Linked DNA regions of Homo sapiens: region 2 is linked to region 1. Evidence: fine-mapped expression QTL. A gene starts in region 1. The other region holds a variant in brackets. All regions are shown on one strand. Distances are between the middles of the regions. Region 1 holds the start of MEA1 (male-enhanced antigen 1). Region 2 overlaps PTK7 (protein tyrosine kinase 7 (inactive)).

Region 1 (10,801 bases):
CATGCCCAGCCAGCAAGAGTTAAACTGAACTGATACAAAGAGACGAAGTATCTCAGAATGACCCAGACAGGAAAAATTATATACAAAGTAACATCTGGTGGTTAATTTGAACCTGAAAAATTATACATAAAGTAACATCTGGTGGTTAATTGGAACCTAAGAACGAAATTCAAAGGGAAGCAGCCAGATCTTCTGGAACCAATGTGATCCAGAGGCTCCTAAACTTGTCTTTACTTTGCAGCTAGGTTCTAAGATTTAATCAGTTGTTCTCAGCATGGTCACAAAAATAACTGTATAAGCTTAGGTCTCAGAAAGTGATGCTGCCGAGCTGTATTTTTTTTTCATATAATTTATTCTGCTGACAGTTTTATATGATGGCTGTCAATTCACCTCCTTCCATCTCATTTCCCACAAGTACACTACATCTCCAGCAGAACAAAAATGTCTGTCTCCTCCATACTGAAACCAAGCTAATCAGGTCACACCTGTGCTGCTCACTCACCCTCACTCAATCCCTCCCTTCCAACCACTCGCTGTACCTGATATCATGAGGCAAACAGGACTGGTCTAGGTTATACTGAATCACGGCCAGTTTGCACAGAGTCTTCAGACTAGGGCCTTTAAGGGAGAAGTTGTGGAAAGGAGATGGTCAAAGGTGAGGAAAGGATCCAGTCCTGGATATCACCACCCAAAGACAGGGACCTTGATGGCAGGAGCAATTCAGGAATAACTATACTTACTAAAGTCCAAAATGTGTAAGTCAGAATGATCTATAAGGTCAAATTCATCTCCCAGGCCTTCCTCAGGAGATGGACTGTCGGGATCAAAAGAGAGATGAAAGTAGGACAAAAACTACCCACGAAACCCCCTTTTCAAATACCTCCCACTCTCCCATTAGTGACTTCCCTGAGCCCCTTCCCTCTCTCCTTCTAACCTGGTACCCCCAAAGAGGACAATCTTGTCACCAACAATACAGCAGCACTGGCGCCGGCGGGGACATGGCCCCTTCCCCTTCGGTTCAATCTTTTTCCAGGTAAAGGACACTGAAGAGAAATTTATATGGAAGTTCAATACCTGCCTAGTCCAGGTATCTTCCCCACCCCCATCCCTCACCGCCTCAGGATTATTTTCTTTTCCTCCCACCTCAATTGCTCCTTGTTCCTGCCCTAAATGCAGTGCTCTTTACCAGGATTAAACTTCCAGAGGTCATGGAAGTGCCGGTTCAGCCTTGCATTATAACCACCAAAGATGTACAGCTCCCCATTGTAGCCAACTGGAAGGAGAGAGGAAGTGTCAGGAGTGTGAAGAGGGCAGGAAGGGAACTCCACAGGGAAGTAACAAACACTCACAGGCCGAGTGGCTCCGGCGCCCCTCAGGCAGCACTGGAGTCGGGGGACAGTCCAGCCAAGCCTCAGTTCTGGTGTCAAAGACTCGAATGCGGTTGCAGTAAATCTCATTGTTGGAATGGAATGGCCCAAAGCGGTCGGCACGGCCCCCAAAGACATACATGTGACTTCCCAGCATTGTGGCTGAGTGGAAGTCCCTCCAGCGTGCAGGGCTGCCCTGGGCAGAGGCAGAGAGATGGTGGAGGGGTCAGCACAAAGACTGGAAGAGGATCTCCTCTGACTGAGCTTCCTATCATTGCTTCAACAGAGGGTGGGGATTTGGGAAAAAAAAGAAAGAGCAGACCTTTGTACAGATAAGAGTCCATGTCATGGTGCTGGTATCTAGCTTGTGAATGTCATTGGAAAAACAGTCCGCCTGAGTAGGAAGAGAAAAGGAGGAAGAAAAGAGGGAGCCAATGGTCACTCTCTGACCCTCCATCCCTCCCCTCAAAACCTGCAAACAAGCCAAAGCCTCCCATTTCACCATCCTAAATTGCCCTTCCCCTCTTTCTCAGTCCCACCCTAAACCTCTTATTTTATTCCCAGACCTACCTGCTGCTCGTAGCCCCCAAAAATGTACATGATCTTGCCTAGGACACAGGCTGAATGTCCATCCCGGGCCCCAGGAACTGTCCCTGACACTCGGGGTGTGAACCACTTGTGCGTATCTGAAGGAGATGAGAAAATGGCTCAACTAAGCACCCTCTATGACAGTCCCTCCTCAGCTCTGGGGTACTCTACTCCCCAAGACCCCCAACCCAAACCTTTCTTGGGCAACTGAGGCAACATCTGGAAGGACATAGCCTCTCTGAGATCCATACTCACTGACGTCAAAGGCATAGAGCACATTGCAGGCCCCTTCGGTGTCATTCCGCCCGCCCCAAAGGAGGACTGTGTCGTCGATGAGGACGGTTGAGTGTCCATAGCGCATGTAGGGTACCACAGGAGCTTGCCCACGGATGGCAGACTTCACCGGGGGCAGCTTTGTCCAACGCAAGGACACTGTGGGCACAGCTCTGCTCAGCCCTGGGAACCTCCCTCCAGGCTGTCCACTTTTCCCAAACCAGATGTTTGTCCCCAATCCCCTTGGTCCCAGAGACCACAGCCAAACCTCATCAGCAGCCCGTTCCCACCCTGATGTGGGGACCCAGGGACAGCCCCAGCATTGGCTTACCTGCATTGAAAATGTGCACATCTATCTGACGCAGTGTCTCATAGTCTTCACCAGAGCAGTAACCCCCGAAGGAGTATACCCGATGCCCGACAGCCACTGCAGCATGGTTCACCCTGCGGGGCCCGCCCTCCAGGTGCACTGTCCACCGTAACATCCCCTGGGCCACTGGTTACAGCAACATGCCCCCCCGGCACGGCCTGCTGCCTCTGCTATCTGCACACAAATTGGGGCCACGGGATCCTCAGGCGAGGCTTCTGCCCAGCTCACTGTGACTCTGCCCAGAACCAGCCTTTGCCTCCAAGTGTCACCCTGGGGGCCCTCCCACACTACCCCTCCACAGGGGCACTAGTCTCAGCTCAGGTGGCTGGCCCTGCCCCAAGGGAGCTGCCGAGGTCAGGGAGCAGCCTGGGCCCAGTGTTCTCCAACAGTGAAGGGTGGGGCCACCCCCACCTGATTGCCAGCTCAGAATCTGCATATCATGGTCACAACCTACTCGTGGAGGCTCCACTCTGTCCCTGGCTTGGCACAAACTTGAAGCCCCCTTCCCAAACGGTATATTCTCTTGTCTCTGCTCTGCTTACTGCCACCTCTCTAAGAATCTGTGTTCTTTGAGGTGGGGAAAGGGATCTCAAAATACTCACAGCTATTAATAGCCCAGCCAGCCTCAAACAGTCCATTGAAAGCTGGCATGAGTGCCTCAAAGCAGAAAAGCTTTCAGGCTTTTAGAGTGGAACAATCCCCCTACCCAAGATAGGGCGGGACTGATCCAGGACAGGGACCTCCATGTTACCGCGGTTGGTTAGCCCCTCACAGGGAGCTCCTGTCAAGCTGAGTTGTTGTCATTGGGGTCACCCAGGGCCCCCCACAGGCACAAGGAGTTCCTTTGACAGCTGTGCCTGGTATGCTGCCAGGACTTAAGCCAGAAAGGTATGTGTATGCTTAGGCTTGGGGGATGGTGATAGAGGGAGGGGTTTTCTCCTCCTGCCACTTCCCCATCCCTGCTACTGTGGTAGAGAACAAGCCATTTCCAGTAGAAAAGAGAGAACAAGCTCTTCCACAACTTGGGTTCCTGAAAGGCGGATAGAGGTGGGAGTGTGCAATGCAAAGGGGAAGGGGCTGGGCACAGTGGCTCACACCTGTAATCCCAGCACCCTGAGAGGCCGAGGCAGGTGGATCACGAGATCAAGAGACGGAGACCATCCTGGCCAACATGGTGAAACCCGTCTCTACTAAAAATACAAAAATTAGCTGGGCACGGTGGCGCGCACCTGTAGTCCCAGCTACTCAGGAGGCTGAGGCAGGAGAATTGCTTGCACTCGGGTGGCGGAGGTTGGAGTGAGCCGAGATCACACCACTGCACTCCAGTCTGGCGACAGAGCGAGACTCTGTCTCAAAACAAAAAAAAAGGGGAAGGGAGGCAAAAAATGCCCTTGGGCAGGACAAGAGAAAGATCCAGCATGAGAAGTCATGGTCTTTTTTTTTTTTTTTTTTTTTAGATGAAGTCTCGCTCTTGCCCCCAGGCTGGAGCGCAATGGTGCAATCTCAGCTCACTGCAAACTCTGCCTCCCTCCCGGGTTCAAGCGATTCTCCTGCCTCAGCCTCCCAAGTAGCTGGGATTACAGGCGCCTGCCACCATGCCCAGCTAATTTTTGTATTTTTAGTAGAGATGGGGTCTCACTATGTTGGCCAGGCTGGTCTCAAACTCCTGACCTCAGGTGATCCACCGTCCTCGGTCTCCTGAAGTGCTGGGATTACAGGCGTGAGCCACCATGCCCAGCTGGTCATGGTCTCTTAAACACAACCTGTCAACCTAGTGGCACGTACACCTGGGTACATCTGAGGTTTTTTCAGGCAAATCCTTGCAACTGACAATGCTTTTGCTGGCAAGCATCTCCTGAGTTTGGGTGTATCATCATCTGCTCCCTGTTTAAGAAGCCCTGGCAGAGGAAAGGGCCAGGCAAAACCTCAGGCACTAAAACAGCTCAAATAAGGGAGGCCCCTTGCAGGAAAGAGACATGGCTTTCAGCTGGCTTGCTAGTCCCACCCACCCAACCTCCCCCAACTCCACACCCTAAGCTTTAAATAGCCATGGGACCCATCCTGAAATAGCCCCAGCAGGAAGCTACTCTCACTTCATTACTCCCGCTCTCCAAAATATCTTGGGTCTGGGCTTGTGGAGACTGTTAGGAGGTCGATGGGCTTAAGAATGGAAGTCTTCCATCCTCCCTTATATTCTCTATTCTTCCCTTCAGATATGTCAAGGTAAAGTAAAATATGCACAGGAGAGGAGATAAGCAATTCCAGCCAAAGGTGGAGAAAAAAAATTTTAGTTTCTCTGCCATATAAACAACTCAAATTCAAGGAGAACAAGCCCCCAGGCGCTCAGGGGCTCCTCTTATCCCTGGGTCTCCCCAGTCCTCCATCACCACCAAGCATTTTCAAACTTCTTCTATTCCCTTAATGTATCTACCCGCCTGGTCTCTTGCATTTTTTATTCCCCATTTCTCGCCCTTCTTGATCTCGTGAGAGCTTTGCAGTTTTCTCATTTTTCCTTCTCCTACCATTCCAAGCTCCACCCAACAGCCCTCCATTTTCCCACCTCCACTAAGGAAAGAAAAATTAGCATGCACTGACCACGATACCCCTCTCTGCATATGACTCTATCCCTGTCTTCTTCCAGACATTCCGGCCTCCCCTAGCCCACCACGCCAGACACCCCTCCCCTTCCATTATGCTCAGCTTCCCTGTTTTCATGGCCCAGTCTTCCTTCCCATTTCCTTCATTGCTTCCTCCAGACACCAGGTCTCTCCTACCCATCTCCTCGCCATCCTCCCCTAGCCCTGCTTTCCCCATTAACACTCTCCTTTCCCATCATCCCCCTAGCTCCCTCCCCACCCCCACCTCATCACTCTCAGGCCCCTCCCCCGCCACTCCAGCTCCAGACAGCACGTCCTAAGCCCCCTAATTCTCCCTTGCCCTTCTACCCATCCCAGGCTACCTGCCAGGCCGAGCCGGGGCGGGGCCGCGGGTCCTCGAGCTGCCTGCAGCCTAGAACCCGTTGCGCGCCAACCGACGCCTTAGTCCCCAACGAGATAAACACAGCCAAGCTCGGTTCTTCCGGCGGGCAGCTGTGCGCGCACGTGCAGTCGTAGCTAAGTGCCGGAGGCATTTCGGGACTTGTAGTCCATACGTTTCCTGAGGGACGAGAGGGCTGAGGAGTGGGCAGGGGCGTAGGAGAGATTCTGCGCATGTGCAAATATGTGTCGAGACCGAGGAGGCCACTGGGTAATGCAGTCCTTTGTTTTTTGGGCTGGGAATGACGGAGGCGGGGCAAGGGGCGGACTCCTCGTCCTCGCCAGCGTCAATCATGGATATGGGGCGGGGCTGGAGGACTAGGCACCTCTGCACGTCCTGCCCCGCCGGAAGTGGAGGCCGCGGGCTCTGAGCGGGTGAGGCGCGCGGGAACACCGGCGCCGGGATTCGGATGGGGGCGGGTGGGGGACGCTGCAGCTGGGGCCATTTGAGGGGAGCCCATGGGGCCTGAAAGGCATCTGTCAGGCGGTACAGAGGGGGTCCTCTAGGAGAGGGGAGAAGGGGGCGGGTACGCCGACCTGTTTAGGGGAGTCTGATGACCCAGAGTTCCCAAGTCGCGGGGGAGGCGTGGCGCGGGGAGCCGGGGTTCTGGAAGGGGTGTCTTTTAGGAGGTGGCAGGGCCTCCGGTTGGGCGTTTAACTAGGAAGTGGCGGAGCAAGTTGGTGGGGCCTGGTTCAAGATAAGAACCCCGACTTAGGAGGGGGAGGAACGAGAGGCTGGAATTGGGGCGGAGGGGTGGAGGATGCAGGAGCCTCGGGGAGGAGCTGGTTTTTTGCACGCAGGAGACTACAAGGAGATGATGAGAGGATGAAGATGGGCCTGGTTTCATCCGATCCCTGTCCTACCGCCTCCCTGTTCTTGCAGCCCCTGCCCGGATGGCAACAGTAGTTCTAGGAGGAGACACCATGGGCCCTGAGCGTATCTTCCCCAATCAGACTGAGGAACTGGGACATCAGGGCCCTTCAGAAGGCACTGGGGATTGGAGCAGTGAGGAGCCTGAGGAAGAGCAGGAGGAAACGGGGTCGGGCCCAGCTGGCTACTCCTACCAGCCCCTGAACCAAGATCCTGAACAAGAGGAGGTGGAACTGGCACCAGTGGGGGATGGAGATGTAGTTGCTGACATCCAGGATCGAATCCAGGTAGGGTGGAGGAGGGATGGTTCCTGAACAGGTGAAGCTGGGCTCCCTGAAAGCCTAGACCCAAACGGTCTTCTGTGGCTCTGCAGGCCCTGGGGCTTCATTTGCCAGACCCACCATTAGAGAGTGAAGATGAAGATGAGGAGGGAGCTACAGCGTTGAACAACCACAGCTCTATTCCCATGGACCCAGGTAAAAGATCATTCTTTCATTCTGGAATAATTACTAAGGAAATGAACTGGCATGAGTCAGTAGAAGGAAGTTTCAGAGGAAGACCCTATCCTAAAAAGATAGTTTGTAAACTAAGATTTTGTAGACTTCAGAGTCCAAGTGAAATGCTCTTTTGCTAGCTTTGGGGATGGGCAGGCTTGCCTTAAAGTAACAAGGTGGATTTGGTGACCCTAGCAGCCCAAGGGCTCTGGGTTGATTCGGGGATTGGGGAGGGGAGCTGGTCCCATTATTTCTATGCCTGAATGGCCTCTGGCTCTGATTTCAGAACATGTAGAGCTGGTGAAAAGGACAATGGCTGGAGTAAGCCTGCCTGCGCCAGGGGTTCCTGCCTGGGCTCGGGAGATATCGGATGCCCAGTGGGAAGATGTGGTACAGAAAGCCCTCCAAGCCCGGCAGGCATCCCCTGCCTGGAAGTGACCACAGTGAGAGCTGCCTTATATTCCTACATTCCAGGCCAGAACCAGCACAGGACTGAACACATCCCTGGTTGTAATGTCCATTTCCATCTTCCCCGTCTCCCTTTCCACATCAAGGCACATCAGACTTCTCAGAGACCCACTTTATTCAGTTCTGTACATATGGGGACATCGGTCCAAGCCCAACCCACCTTAGCATGTATCACTCTGTGGAGAATAAAGCACCCTATGTACACAGCCAAAAGCCGCACTGCCTGCGCCCCTGGAACCTGGGTCCGGCCTTCCTCAGCCCCTGGCCCCTCCAAGGTACCTATAAGGGACAAGAGAAGGCCTGCCCAGCATAGCACAAACAAGGAAATAAATAGGTGTTGGCAGGAGCCATGCTTGGGGCACCGCTCCCTGCTTCCTTCTTTCTAGTTTTGGGAACCAACAGCACAGAAAAGCAGTCAGCCCCAGGGTGGTCCCTTCCATGTCTGTGACCCCAGGGCTGCTGCTCACCAAAGACAGGGCACGGGGTAGGGTGTTTATTCATCCCTCCCCGGCCCCACTTGGTCCATCTGGGCCCTATATTCATCAGTTATTGTCCACAGCCTATACTTTTCTCCTTTTGACCTCCCTTGGTCAGGCATGGGGTAAGAAGAAATAATACAACCCTATCTGCCAGCACACGGCTGGGACTGGGGGGCCTATTTGTGCTGCAGGGGGGTTGGCTTCCCTTCAGCTACTCTGGGACCAATGGGGCTTGACATAACTTTGGTGAGAATAATCTCCTGCTGTTCCCTACATGCCTCTGCAGGGGAGAGAGAGGAGGGGAGATACCTGGCGTTCAAATGAGGATGAAGGGAAGAATAGAGGAGCGTATGTATTCCTGTGTGTACTTCTCAGAGCAGCCTCAGGTAGCTGTGGGTGAGGAGCAGGTAGGGGACAGGCATCCCCAGGTTGTCTGAGCACTAAGCATCTTAGTGCTCAGCCTGTACTAGCCACAGGGAGGCATGAACACCTTTTGGGGAGAAGAGGGACCATTCTGTGGGTGTCCCTGCTTCAAGTGCCCACATCCCCCTCCCTTGAGTAGCTAGAGAGGCGCTGCCTTCCCCCAAGACAGCCAGTAGGGAGCAGAGTATGGAGGGCCAGGGCAGTGTCCCAGGGCTGTGTGGGCTGTGGCCCTGTGGTAGGAACGTGAGGGGTCAGAGAGCCTCCTGGCTGGCAGTTAGGAACTCTTCCGCCCGCTTGTGCGCCTCCAGTGCCTTGATGGTGTACACGTCCTGGGGCAGCTCCGACTTCCTCCGCAGCAGCACTTTCTCCTTCTTGATGTCTTTTAGCATCTGTGTGTGAATAGGGACAAGGTGAGGAATGGTGACCAATTCCCAGTGAATTCTATTGTTCCGTCCCCTTATTCTTTGGCTCTGCTGTTTCTGTCTCCTCTCCCTTCCAGAGCTATTATTTCTGCTCCATCCCCCTACATTGCCCTCCCACCTGAACAGCCTCAGTCTCCACAGTCCTCTTCAGAAGCTGGATGTCCTCAGCTGTGGGGGTCTCTGTCTCCATCGAGTACACAGGGGGCAGTGGTGGAGGGGCTCGGAACATGGGATACTGAGTGAGGAGACATGGACAAGCGTTAAGAGCCACTTCAGAGGCTTGGGGGCCTGTGTGCCCCATATTCCTCCCCCAACAAACTCTCCCCCAGCTCAAGATGGGCTGGCCCCTCAGTTCACAACAGTGGCAGGAAAACCTCACCTGGGGATTAAGCCGGGCCAGCTCCTCGATTTTTTGCCACATCTCTTCCCTTTCCTTCATTCGGAACCGGCCCCTGAGGAGCAAAAGTAGGATTGGGGTTGGGCTTGAGAGAAACACAGTGAGCTGGTGGTAGAAGATGAAAGTCTCCCGGGGAGAGAGATACTCACTTCTGCTTCTCTGCCTTGTATTGTTGTGTGCAGTCATCAAACAGCTTCTGATTCATTTCCATAAACAACTTCAGGGCATTATAGATCAGTCCATGGATTGTCCTGCCACCAAGAAGAAAGATGAGGTGTAGGAGGCCAGAGCCTGCCCTTAGCGTGAGGAACCCAATTTGTTCTCTCACAGGGGTATCTCTGCTAAGAGCTTTGTCATTTACTACTTCCAGTTCACAAACCTCTGTGCAGTATCAGAAGAGAGCTCTGGCCAAATCACCTGGTTTGAGACTGGCATTTCATGGTTTTCACAAATATCGGTCCACCTGTCCATCCTTCCCTCACCCCATGCTCCAAGGCCTGCCTACCTCCCATCCTTTCCCACTCTAACCCACACTAATGGCCTCCCAGCAGCATGATGGGCATGTAGATGCAGCATGACAGACTGCATCTACACCACAGTGTGCTTGCTTTTAGCAGAAAAGTCTTTTCAAAACCCTGAGTTTTTTTTTTAAGACGGAGTCTCACTCTGTTGCCCAGGCTGGAGTGCAGTGGCACGATCTCGGCTCACTGCAACCGTCACCTCCCAGGTTCAAGTGATTCTCCTGCCTCAGCCTCCCAAGTAGCTGGGACTACAGGCATCCACCACTACACCCAGCTAATTTTTGTATTTTTAGTAGAGATGGGGGTTTCACTATGTTGGGCAGGCTGGTCTCAAACTCCTGACCTCGTGATCCACCCGCCTTGCCAGCCTCCCAAAGTGCTAGGATTACAGGCGTGAGACACCGTGCCCGGCCTAAAACCCTGGGATTCTTTACACATACTCTCAAAGAAGGTCACATCAGCTTCTCACTGCATAGAATTACATCTCCAAAGCTGTGATAGGACCTGTAGAATAGCTGAACCCAAGGAGCGGTGTAACAGGCCGCTGCCCTGCTGTTTGGTATCACAGAGATCTTGCACACAGGCATCTTTTCGCTCCAGTCAGCCCCTCAAGGTCCTATCAACATGCAGGGGACATCAGCCCCACTTGCTGGGTGACTAGGTGAGACCCCTGGCTCTTTAGTTCTTCCATACCCTCAAAGTTTCCCAAACTGGATCCCCACCACCCAGCCCCACCCCAGCGCCTTACTTGTTCCAGTGGCTCTTGGAGTTCCTGTAGAGTGCAGGGAACATGATGGGGAGGACTCGGGCAGCATTGTCACTTATCAGGCTCATGATGTACTCATTGTTCCAGTAATAGAGAGCACGCTCTGCCACCTGGTGGGGAGAGGCAGACTCGGTGGGTGCTGCTCATTTCACTCAAGACCTCAGTTTCTGGCAGGGGCTAGGATATGCTAGGTTGGAGTCTCACCTGGAAATGGGGGCTAGAGACACACTTGGCCAGCTGGCGGAAGAGGGGTTCCATCACTTTGCTGAACTCAGAAGGTTCAATGACGTCCAGAATCTCCTCCAGCTCATTCAAGAACATCACCTC
Region 2 (10,801 bases), 92 kb before region 1:
GGAAAGTTTACAAAACATGTAACTGTAAGGTGCTGGCATACAGTGTAGATGCAGGGTGGAGATGAGGTTAAAAGTTCAGAGACTGGAGTCAGACTACCTGTATTCAAATACACTCCCTCACTTACCAAGAGTATGACCTTGGACAAGCTGTTTATCCTTTCCATGCCTTCATTTTTGTATCTATAAAATGGTGCTAATAGGCCAGGTGCAGTGGCTCACGCCTGTAATCCCAGCACTTTGGGAGGCCAAGGTGGGAGGACTGCTTGAGCTCAGGGGTTCAAGACCAGCCTGGGCAACACAGTAAGACCTCATCTCTACTAAATATTAAAAAAAAAAAAAAAAAGAATTAGCTGGGCATGGTGGTATGCACCTGTGGTCCCAGCTACTCAGGAGACTGAGGTGGGAGGATCACTTGAGACCAGGAGATCAGGTTGAGGCTGCAGTGAGCAATGATCGTGCCACTGCATCCCAGCCTGTGTGACAGAGTGAGACCTGTCTCAAAATAAATAAAATAAAAGATGCAAGTAACAGTACTGGCCTCATAGGCTTGTTGCAAAAAGAAAATTCACATGGTAACAGAGGTAGCAGTGTGAAACAGTGCCTGGCACATAGGAAGTATTATGTGAGTTTGGACTCTTAGCCATTATTTATTGTCATCATTATATTCAGGATTTTTTCATTTTTTAGAACCTGCACTCCATCACAACCATCCCTAAGCCAGCACTGGCCTTTGTCAGCATTCCTCTACACAGACCATTTGGAGATGCTAAGTGCCTGCTTGATTTCCCTCATCCAATCTCTGCTGTAGTGGTTCTCTCTGAACAGACACCCTGAGGTCTGAAGCTCTGTCCCTCAGCTGCCTGATGCTCCACCTGATCACTAAATACAGGTACGTGGGACTCCACAGTTCAAGAGGTGCCACCCTGTGCTGGTGAAGTTCAGAGGGGTAGCTACTGATTGCTGGCAGCTTTGCATTCTGTCTACCTTGGGCACCTCCAGACAATGCTCTGCTTGCATTCCTAATAGGGGTGCAGATTAGCAGTTGCTTATAGTTTCATTTACTTCCCCCAGAAGCTGTTCAAAACAGAAGTACCTTCAGCATGAACCAAAATCAGAGTGAGCCTATCTGGGTGAAAATGGACCCAGTCATCTTGGTATGAAGCAGGCCTCTGGCCTCAAGGAACACAAACAGTTATTAGGTGAAGAGAACACAGTAATGTTCATGCACCAATGAATGCCTAGAGATCACTATTAGACTTCAGCTTTCCGATCCTAGGAGGCCCCGCCAACAGAGGCCTGGAAAGTCTATGCTATCTAAAGGAGAATGCCTGACTACGTAAGATACAAGGTAGAAATGACCGTCAGCAGCAATGACAAGTCAGACAAATGACTTTAAGTAAATGACAGAAGAGGGGTTGCTGGCCTTGATATATGAAAAGTAACAAATCATTCATAAAAACTGTTAAAATTCGGCCAGGCACAGTGGGTCAAACCTGTAATCCCAGCACTTTGGGAGGCCGAGGCGGGTGGATCACCTGAGGACAGGAGCTCAAAACCAGCCTAACATGGTGAAACCCTGTCTCTAATAAAAATACAAAAAAATTAGCCAGGCAAGGTGGCACATGCCTGTAATCCCAGCTACTTGGGAGGCTGAGGCAAGAGAATCGCTTGAACCCAGAGGCGGAGGTTGCAGTGAGCCAAGATTGCGCCACTGTACTCCAGCCTGGGCACTAAGAGCAAAATTCCATCTCAAAAACAAAAACAAAAACAAAACAGCAACAACAACAACAAAAAAAAAACCTGCTAAAATTCTAATAGAAACATGGTCAAGACAATATGAAGAGTTCTCAAAACAAACATAAATGATTAATAAATATAGGAAAATACTCCAGGCCAGGCATGGTGGCTTACACCTGTAATCCCAGCACTTTGGAAAGCTGAGGCAGGCAGATCACGAGGTCAAGAGTTCGAGACCAGCCTGGCCAGCATGTATTTTGTATTCTAAACATACAAAAAATTAGCTGGGCATGGTGTTGCGCGCCTGTAATCCCAGCTACTCAGGAGACTGAGGCAGGAGAATCACTGGAACCTAGGAGACGGAGGTTGCTGTGAGCCAAAATCACGCCACTGCACTCTAGCCTGGGCGATACAGCGAGACTCTGTCTCAAAAAAAAAAAAAAAAAGGCCGGGCATGGTGGCTCACGCCTGTAATCTCAGCACTTTGGGAGGCCGAGGCAGGTGGATCACGAGGTCAGGAAATCGAGATCATCCTGACTAACACGGTGAAACCCCGTCTCTACTAATAATACAAAAAATTAGCCGGGCGTGGTCGTGGGCACCTGTAGTCCCAGCTACTCGGGAGGCTAAGCCAGGAGAATGGTGTGAACCCGGGAGGCAGAGTTTGCAGTGAGCTGAGATCACGCCACTGCACTCCTGCCTGGGTGACAGAGCAAGACTCTGTCTCAAAAAAAAAAAAAAAGAAAATACTCCAATGCACTAGTAATCTAAGAAATGTAAATTAGAACGAGTTCTACCCATCAAATGAAGGCCAAGATTTTAAAAATAACACTCAACGCTGGTAAGCATATGGAGAAAATAGTCCTTCTACTTTGCTGGAGGGAATATAAATTATAATAAATCCCTTCTGGAAAATGTTTGGTAATATTGTACTAATGTTCTAAAAAATTTATGTCCTTTCTCCTTGCAGAATTGGCTGATTCCAGTTCCAGGATAGGAAATGTACAAGAGAAGCCTAGAACTCCATCTTATCATACAAGGAAACAAGCAAAGACTAGCAGGGTCTCATCAAAAGGTCCAGGGGAAAAAAAAGATTCAAGGCCTGCTGGGTATGATGCCATGCTCCTGTAGTCCCAGCTACTTGAGTGGCTCAGGTGGGAGGATTGCTTGAGCCCCGGAGTTCAAGTTCAGCTTGGACAACATAGCAAGACCCTATCTCTTTAAAAAAATAAGATAAATAAAAAGGTTCAGGCTCAGCTTGAAGAGGCTCCCATCAGCCAATGATAGGACCACTTAAGCATTCGTAAGGGTAAGAACCACATGGACTAAAACACATCAAATAGGTTTAAAATCCGTAAGTGTACAGTGATGCTTAACACAAAACACTGAAAGTCTCTCACTGGCCACCTTTGAAGAATGTTAGAAAACCAACTCATTATTTTGAAAATCAGTAAAGAATCAAGCATTTATTTTTCCCTTTCTTGAACAGCTATATCTGTGGGTAACCAAACAGTTAATGAGGGGAGATTGGTGTTTATAGAAGTTTCCAGCTAATAAACAGAATACCATGATTTTACAACCCCCTAATGAAATAATGGATCTAGCAATGATTAGTGATGGCTTCTCATTCCAAACAGACAACCAGATATTGTACCTACTGAGGTACACATAAAGAAAAAACAAAATCAAATCTGAACTTGATGAAGCCTCTACATCTAACTCATTATTGAAAAGTTTAACAAGTCTGGGCACAGTGGCTCATGCCTGGAATCCCAGCACTTTGGGAGGCCGAGGCGGGTGGATCGCTTGAGGCCAGGAGTTCGAGACCAGCCTGGGCAACACGGTAAAACCCCGTCTCTACAAAAATATTACAGAAATTAGCCAGGCATGGTGGTATGCGCCTGTAGTCCCAGCTACTTGGGAGGCTGAGATGGGAGGATCATTTGAACCCAGGAGGTGGAGGCTGCAGTGAGCTGTGCTCGTGCCACTGCACTCCAGCCTGGGCAACAAACTGAGACCCTGTCTTTAAAGGAAAAAAAAAAAAAGGTTGGCCGGGCGCGGTGGCTCATGCCCATAATCCCAGCACTTTGGGAAGCCAAGGCAGGAGGATCACCTGAGGTCAGAAGTTTGTGACCAGCCTGGACAGCATGGGGAAACCCCGTCTCTACTAAAAATACAAAAATTAGCCAGGCATGGTGGCAGGCGCCTGTAGTCCCAGCTACTCAGGAGGCTGAGGCAGGAGAATCGCTTGAACCTGGGAGGCGGAGGTTGCAGTGAGCCAAGATTGCACCATTGCACTCCAGCCTGGGCAACAAGGGCGAGACTGTCTCAAAAAAAAAAAAAAAAAAAGTTAAAGCAGCTTTCTGGAACAAATTTGGAAAACAAGACAGAAGTTAGATAACAATGTGCCACCAACTGAAATAATAATCGTGAACACACATTCTCTTTATCTTCTATTACTCCCGTAAATAACTGTTAAAACCCTAATACCGCTATTTAACATTTCATGTGCTTACAACTCTGTCTTCGCCACTAGATTCTAAGCTTCCTGAGGACAGATGCAGATCTCGCACTTGGTCTCCTCCATGGCAGATGCCTCGCCCGTGAGAGGTGCTCAGGAAATATCGGCCGATTTGTGGTGGTTTTACTGAGCCAGATAATTTGGTCGCATTATCCCAACATGATGTGGAACCAGCAGGGGTCAAAGCCCAATATGGGATCCTGGTAGGCAATTATATTAATTATCATTCTTAATTCAACAATCATTTACTTAGAGCCTACCATGTGCCAAGTACTTCATAAGACACTGGGGACAGAGAGAGAAACACACAATTACTGTCTTTAAGTGTCTCAGTTTAGTAGGAGAGTCAGGCAAGTAAACATATAATTAAAGTAACAGCTACCACTTACTGACCACTTACTGTTCCAAACATTTAACCATATTAACTTGTTATAATGCTAATGCCCATCTGGTAGGGTAGGTACTATGATCCCCATTATGCAGATAAGGAAACGAGACAAAGAAAGGTAAAGCAGTTTGCTAAACATCACACAGCTGATGAGTAACAGATGCCGGCTTCAAATCTCAGGTCTTCTGGCCTGAGGAAAGTCTATCATAACGTGTAGGCTTTGCTGTATTATCACACAGGATGATGGGTGGGTGCAAAGGGCACACAAGAGAAGCATCTAAGTCAGAGTCAGGGGATTAAAAAGTCAGGGAGTCCAGGCGAGGTGGCTCACACCTGTAATCCCAGCACTTTGGGAGGTCGAGGATGGCAGATCACCTTGAGGTCAGGAGTTCGAGACCAGTCTGGCCCACAAGGTGAAAATCCGCCTCTACTAAAAATACAAAAATTAGCCAGGCATGGTGGTGCACACCTATAGTCCCAGCTACTCAGGAGGCTGAGGCAGGAGAATCGCTTTAACCTGGGAGGTGGAGCTTGCAGTGAGCCGAGATGGCGCCACTGCACTCCAGCCTGGGTGACAGAGCAAGACTCTGTCTCAAAAAAAAAAAAAATTCAGGGAAGAGGCTGGGCATGGTGGCTCACACCTGTAATCCCAGCACTTTGGGAGGCCAAGGTGAGGAGAGCACTTTAGGTCAGGAGTTCAAGACAAGCCTGGCCAACATGGTAAAACCCCGTCTGTACTAAAAATACAAAAAATTAGCCGGGTGTCACGCCTGTAATCCCAGTTACTTGGGAGGCCGAGGTTGCCATGAGTCGAGATCACACCACT[G/A]CACTCCAGCCTGGGTGACAGAGCAAGACTCTGTCTCAAAAAAAAAAAAAAAAAAAAAGGCAGGGAGGAATCTTGGAAGGATCTTCAACATAAGGTTTTACGAAGGAAAGGGGCGGGTGTGGTGGCTCATGCCTGCTATAATCTCAGCACTTTGAGCATTCTGGGAGGTCGAGGTGGAGAGATCACTTGAGGCCAGGAGTTCGAGACCAGCCTGGGCAACACAGTAAGACCCCATTATCTAGGCATGGTGGTGCAAGCCTGTAGTCCCAGCCACCTGGGAGGCTGCAACAGGAGGATCCCTTGAGTCCAGGAGGTCAAGGCTGCGGTGAGCTGTGATTGTGCCAGGGCACTCCAGCCTAGGTAATCGAGCAAGACCCTGTCTCAAAAAACAAACAAACAAAAACAAAAAAAGGAACGGGACTTGGCAAATAGAACAAGTCAGAAGCACAAAGACCAGGCATGATCAGAGAACTCTGAGTAATTCAGAATGCTCAGGGTTAAAAGGATGAGGAGAAGGAAGCCCACCAAGAGGCCATTAGAACTCCACTTTGGGGCAAGGAGGCAAAGGAGGTGAAATGCAAACCCACCCTGCTCAGGCTGTCCCCCAACAACAAAAAAAAATCACAACCACAATGAGTCCCTGTTTCCAAGGAGGTGGTTGCTAGGGTAGGAAATGGACTGAAGAAGCTCTTTGTCATGGAGAGAATGGCAGGCGCAGTCACAGAAGGCACGGCTACGGGATAATGCCATACCTGCTCTATCAGTTTCCCAGGGCTGCCATAACAAATTACCACAACTGGGTGGCTTAAAATAACAGAAATTTATCCTCTCGCAGCTCTGGAGGCCAGAGTGCAAAATCAAAGTGTTGGTGAGGTTGGATCCTTCTGGAGGGCACAGAGGGAGAGTCTGTTCCACGCCTCTGTCCTTGCTCCTGGTGGCTGTCAGCAATCCCTGGTGCTCCTTGGCTTGTAGCCACATCACTCCAACCTCAGCCTTCGCTATCACAAGCCGTCTTCCTGTGGTGTACTTCTGTCTCTGGGCCTTTTCTCTTCACATGGGGCGCCACCAGTCATACAGGATTCGTCATTCACCTTAATGAATTGATCTTACCTTGATTATATCTACAGAGACCCTAATTCCAAATAAAGTCATATTCACAGGTACTGAGGCTTAGGACTTCAACATGTATTTTGGGAGGACACAATTCACCCTCTAATATCTGCTATTCTGCAAGTTGCTTTTTTTTTTTTTTTTTTTTGCTATACAGTTAACCACAGATGTCTTTCCATGTCTGTTCATATAATTCGACCTCATTCACTTCAACCACTGTGTATTATTTCACTGTATCAATTACCCATAACCTATTTATCCAATACCCTAATAATGGGCATTCAGATGGTTTTCCTTTTTTTTTTTTCTTTTTGTCATTATGAAGAATATTCTTATTCTCTGTACAGGCATCTATGCACACTGATAATGAGAGGGTTTCTGTAGGATGACTTCCAAAGAGAATGGAAACAAAGAGAATATAATTTCAAGCTTTTGATAAATGACATCCAGCATTATCTCCAGAGAAGTTTTTTTAAAAAAAAAAAAAAGGCTGGGCTTGGTGGCTCATGCCTATAATCCCAGCACTTTGGGAGGCTGTGGCGGGTGGATCACAAGGTCAGGCGATCGAGACCATCCTGGCTAACACGGTGAAACACCGTCTCTACTAAAAATACAAAAATTAGCTGAGCATGGTGGCGGGCACCTGTAATCCCAGCTACTCAAGAGGCTGAGACAGGAGAATGGCATGAACCCAGGAGGCGGAGATTGGAGTGAGCGGAGATCACGCCACTGCACTCCAGCCTGGGCGACAGAGTGAGACTCCGTCTCAAAAAAAAAAAAAAAAAAAAAAGTTGTGCTAATTTACGCTTTCTTAACCAACACTGATGCTTAATATCTTTGTCAACCTGAGAGACATAAAATAATACTTTGTGGCTGGGCATGGAGGCTGACACCTGTAATCCCAGCACTCTGGGAGGCTGAGGTGAGCGGATCACTTCAGGTCAGGAGTTCAAGACCAGCCTGGGCCAACATGGTTTTCACCATGTTGTATTTTGTATTTTCTCTACTAAAAATACAAAAATTAGCTAGGCGTGGTGGCATGTGCCTGTAATCCCAGCTTCTCAGGAGGCTGAGGCAGGAGAATTACTCCCTCCCAGGGGGCAGAGGTTACAATGGGCCTAGCTCACACCATTGTACTCCAGCCTGGGCGACAGAGCAAGAATCCATCTCATAAATAAATAAATAATTTTAAAAAAATACTTTGTTTTAATTAGCATTGTTTCTTCTTAAGAAAATAAAGCAATTTTTCATTTTTAACTGGTTAGCTAAATTTCTCCCCCACCCTCAACCAAGATTTCAATTTAAATTGGTACTTGGGGAACAGAGAATATGAGATATTTTATTGCCCTAAATTTCTTATTGTCCATTTTATGTTCAACTTTGTTGCCTTATTTTCCTTACTGTTACCTTATTATTATTTTGTAATTAATAAGATCAGAAATATAAGATCTGATTTTCTGTATTACATGTGGCACTCACCCTCCCTCCTCCAGAATAGTCATTAAATTACTGAATGACTTATATGTGCCAGGCACTGCTCTAAGTACTAAGAATACAGCAGTGAACAAGACAGTGAAGGTTCCTGTTCCTAATCGTTACTTCACCGAAGAAGAAAAAGTGTTTGCACATGATTTGAGAAAACAGATGGGAGTGAGATTTTCACCCCGGGTGCAGACTTGCCTCAAAATTAATTTAAATACTGTCCTATTTTGATCCATTTGAGAGCCTTCTAGGGAAAATCTACTCTGTTCTCCAGGTGTCCTAGAAGGATTCACCAAAGGAACAGTGTGGTTAGTGAAGGTGGAGCAGGAATAGTTGCCAGACAGCTGTGCCCCTTCCCTGGAGGGAAGAGTCATGCCCCCAGGCACCCAGTGCCTTCAAAGGTTAAGGCTGTGAGTTCAGAGAACAAAGGAAGTTTTAAGGAAGAACAACTCCTCCCCACTCCAGGTAAAGGGGGATGTAACTGAAGCATCACTCCCAGCCTCACTCCACCTCCTTCCATCAGCCCCAAGGTGGGGGGATGTCTGATTGGGCATATTTGACTCCGATCCTTCCTCCTTTCACTTGGGAGTGGGGGGTCTGCTCCACCTGCAGGGAGCACACATTTTTTATAGGTGGCTACACACACACACACACACACACCTGTAATACTCCAGCACTGCTATGACAAGGGAGTAAGTCTGCCTAACTCAAGGATGAATAAGACATTTATCCACTTCAGATTAAAGCCTTGTTGCTTGCTCAACCTAGCCTTTAAAACAAATAAAAGTGATACTCTGATCTCCATCATCCAATCCCTGGTCTGTCTGTTTTTCTCCCTCTCTTTCACCCCCTTCGACTGGTTTTAAACTCAGAAGGGAGAAGGGTATTTACTGGTGCTGTCAATACAGTTTCCATTATAATGGTTTATGCCTGAGCATTTTGTTTTTATTTTTATTGATTCTGTGAATGGATAAATGTTCCTGTTGTATTTTCTAAATGGTTACTTGCTGATAAGCAGCAAACCTTCTGGGTTTTGTGTAGGTTTTGTATTTGCCCAAATGACTCAGTTCTCTCACTGATTGTAGTAGTTTTTCAGTTGATAATTGGGTTTCCCATGTAAAAAAGGTACCTCTGCAAAAAACATGAACTTTATTTAGACTTTCAGTCTTTTTTTTTCCTGTAAGTGACAGGGTCTTGCTTAGTTGTCCAAGCTGCAATCCTCCCACCTCAGCCTCCCAACTAGCTGGGACGATGGGTACACGCCACCTGGCTATATTCTTTCTTATAGCATTATTTCAGCTAAAATAATAATAAATAGTAGTGACTTTATTATTTTAATTTAGTAACTTCATTTTAATGCAAATAGCATTGTATTTCATTTTTAAGTATAATGATGGCTATGTTTGTTTTTTTAATCAGAAATGGATGTTAATTTATATCTAGTGTCATTTTTGCCTCTATTGAGAGAATTGTGTGACACCTTTGCGGTTGGTTTGTTTTTTTTTGGTTTTTTTTTGGTGGGGTAGGGGGAACAAAGTCTTGCTCTGTTGCCCAGGCTGGAATGCAGTGGTAGGATCTCAATGCACCGCAACCTCCACTTCCTGGGTTTAAGCAATTCTCCTGCCCCAGTCTCCCAAGTAGCTGGTATTACAGGGACCCGCCAACACAACCGGCTAATTTTTTTTTTTCTTTGAGACAGAGTCTTGCTCTGTTGCCCAAGCTGGAGTGCAGTGGCACGGCCTTGGCTCACTGCAACCTCCATCTCCCGGGTTCAAGCAATTCTCCTGTCTAAGCCTCCCAAGTAGCTGGGACTACAGGCGCCCGCCACCATGCCCAGCTAATTTTTGGGTTTTTAGTAGAGATGGGGTTTCACTGTATTGGTCGGGCTGGTCTCAAACTCCTGACCTCAGGTGATCCGCCCACCTCGGCCTCCCAAAGTGCTGGGATTACAGGCATGAGCCACCTCACCTGGCCAAGAGATGCTCCCAAGAACGGGCTGGAACCACCCACCTCCAGAGTTGGAGGCAAGCACACCAATCAACTGCAAGACACAGAGGGTCAAGTGGCACTCTGTATTTTTTTTAGTAGAAACGGGGTCTCACCATGTTGGCCAGGCTGGTCTCAAACTCCTGACCTCAGATGATCTGCCCGCCTCGGCCTCCCAAAGTGCTGGGATTACAGGCGTGAACCACCACGCCCAGCCACCTCTGACGTCTTATGTTGATGAGTTATAAAGGGTAAGCCACCCATGCATTTTTGGGAATACATCCTTTACTTGTTTATGGCACATTACCGTTTATCATAGTGTTAGATTTAATTTTCAAGTATTCTATATTAGACTTTTACACCAACGTTTCTAAGTAGTGTGGTTTTCTGCACTGTCAGCATTTGAGAACAAAGCTATATCAACTTTGTGACACACACAGGCTGTTGTCCATCTGTTCCTTGGCTCTGTGACAGTCTCTACAAAGCATTTACAGGCTCTACTTCTTCAACATTTTTCAAAATTTTCCCTCAAAACTATTTGATACAACTATCTTTCTTTTTTTTTTTATTTTTTTTTTTGAGACGGAGTCTTGCTCTGTGACCCAGGCTGGAGTGCAGTGGCGCAATCTCAGCACACTGCCAGCTCTGCCTCCCGGGTTCATGCCATTCTCATGCCTCAGCTTCCCGAGTAGCTAGGACTACAGGTGCCCACCACCACGCCCGGCTAATTTTTTGTATTTTTAGTAGAGAC

What was found. PIP is the estimated chance that this variant, and not a neighbour inherited with it, causes the effect.
Region 2: its variant is the best candidate, but not a certain one, in a credible set for the expression of MEA1 in lung (GTEx, PIP 0.58).

Annotation. Positions count from the first base shown.
Region 1 is chr6:43,009,105-43,019,905 of GRCh38, reverse strand. It overlaps MEA1 (male-enhanced antigen 1), which reads left to right and starts at 5,960. Exons shown (of 4, transcript NM_014623.4): 1 at 5,960-6,120; 2 at 6,517-6,791; 3 at 6,878-6,980; 4 at 7,285-8,763. The coding sequence starts at 6,093. The coding sequence ends at 7,436. It overlaps PPP2R5D (protein phosphatase 2 regulatory subunit B'delta), which reads right to left. Exons shown (of 16, transcript NM_006245.4): 11 at 10,679-10,801; 12 at 10,457-10,584; 13 at 9,337-9,438; 14 at 9,170-9,242; 15 at 8,909-9,025; 16 at 7,564-8,757. The coding sequence ends at 8,620. It overlaps KLHDC3 (kelch domain containing 3), which reads right to left and starts at 5,657. Exons shown (of 11, transcript NM_057161.4): 1 at 5,558-5,657; 2 at 2,560-2,772; 3 at 2,211-2,387; 4 at 1,938-2,053; 5 at 1,690-1,761; 6 at 1,350-1,563; 7 at 1,187-1,273; 8 at 935-1,043; 9 at 741-814; 10 at 540-618. The coding sequence starts at 2,713. RefSeq lists enhancers at 5,709-5,828, 7,792-8,292 and a silencer at 6,039-6,088.
Region 2 is chr6:43,101,380-43,112,180 of GRCh38, reverse strand. All of the region lies in intron 1 of PTK7 (protein tyrosine kinase 7 (inactive)), which reads right to left. Among named protein-coding and RNA genes, the nearest start is that of PTK7, 30 kb to the right of the region's middle. The variant G/A (reference allele first, on the strand shown) is at 5,473.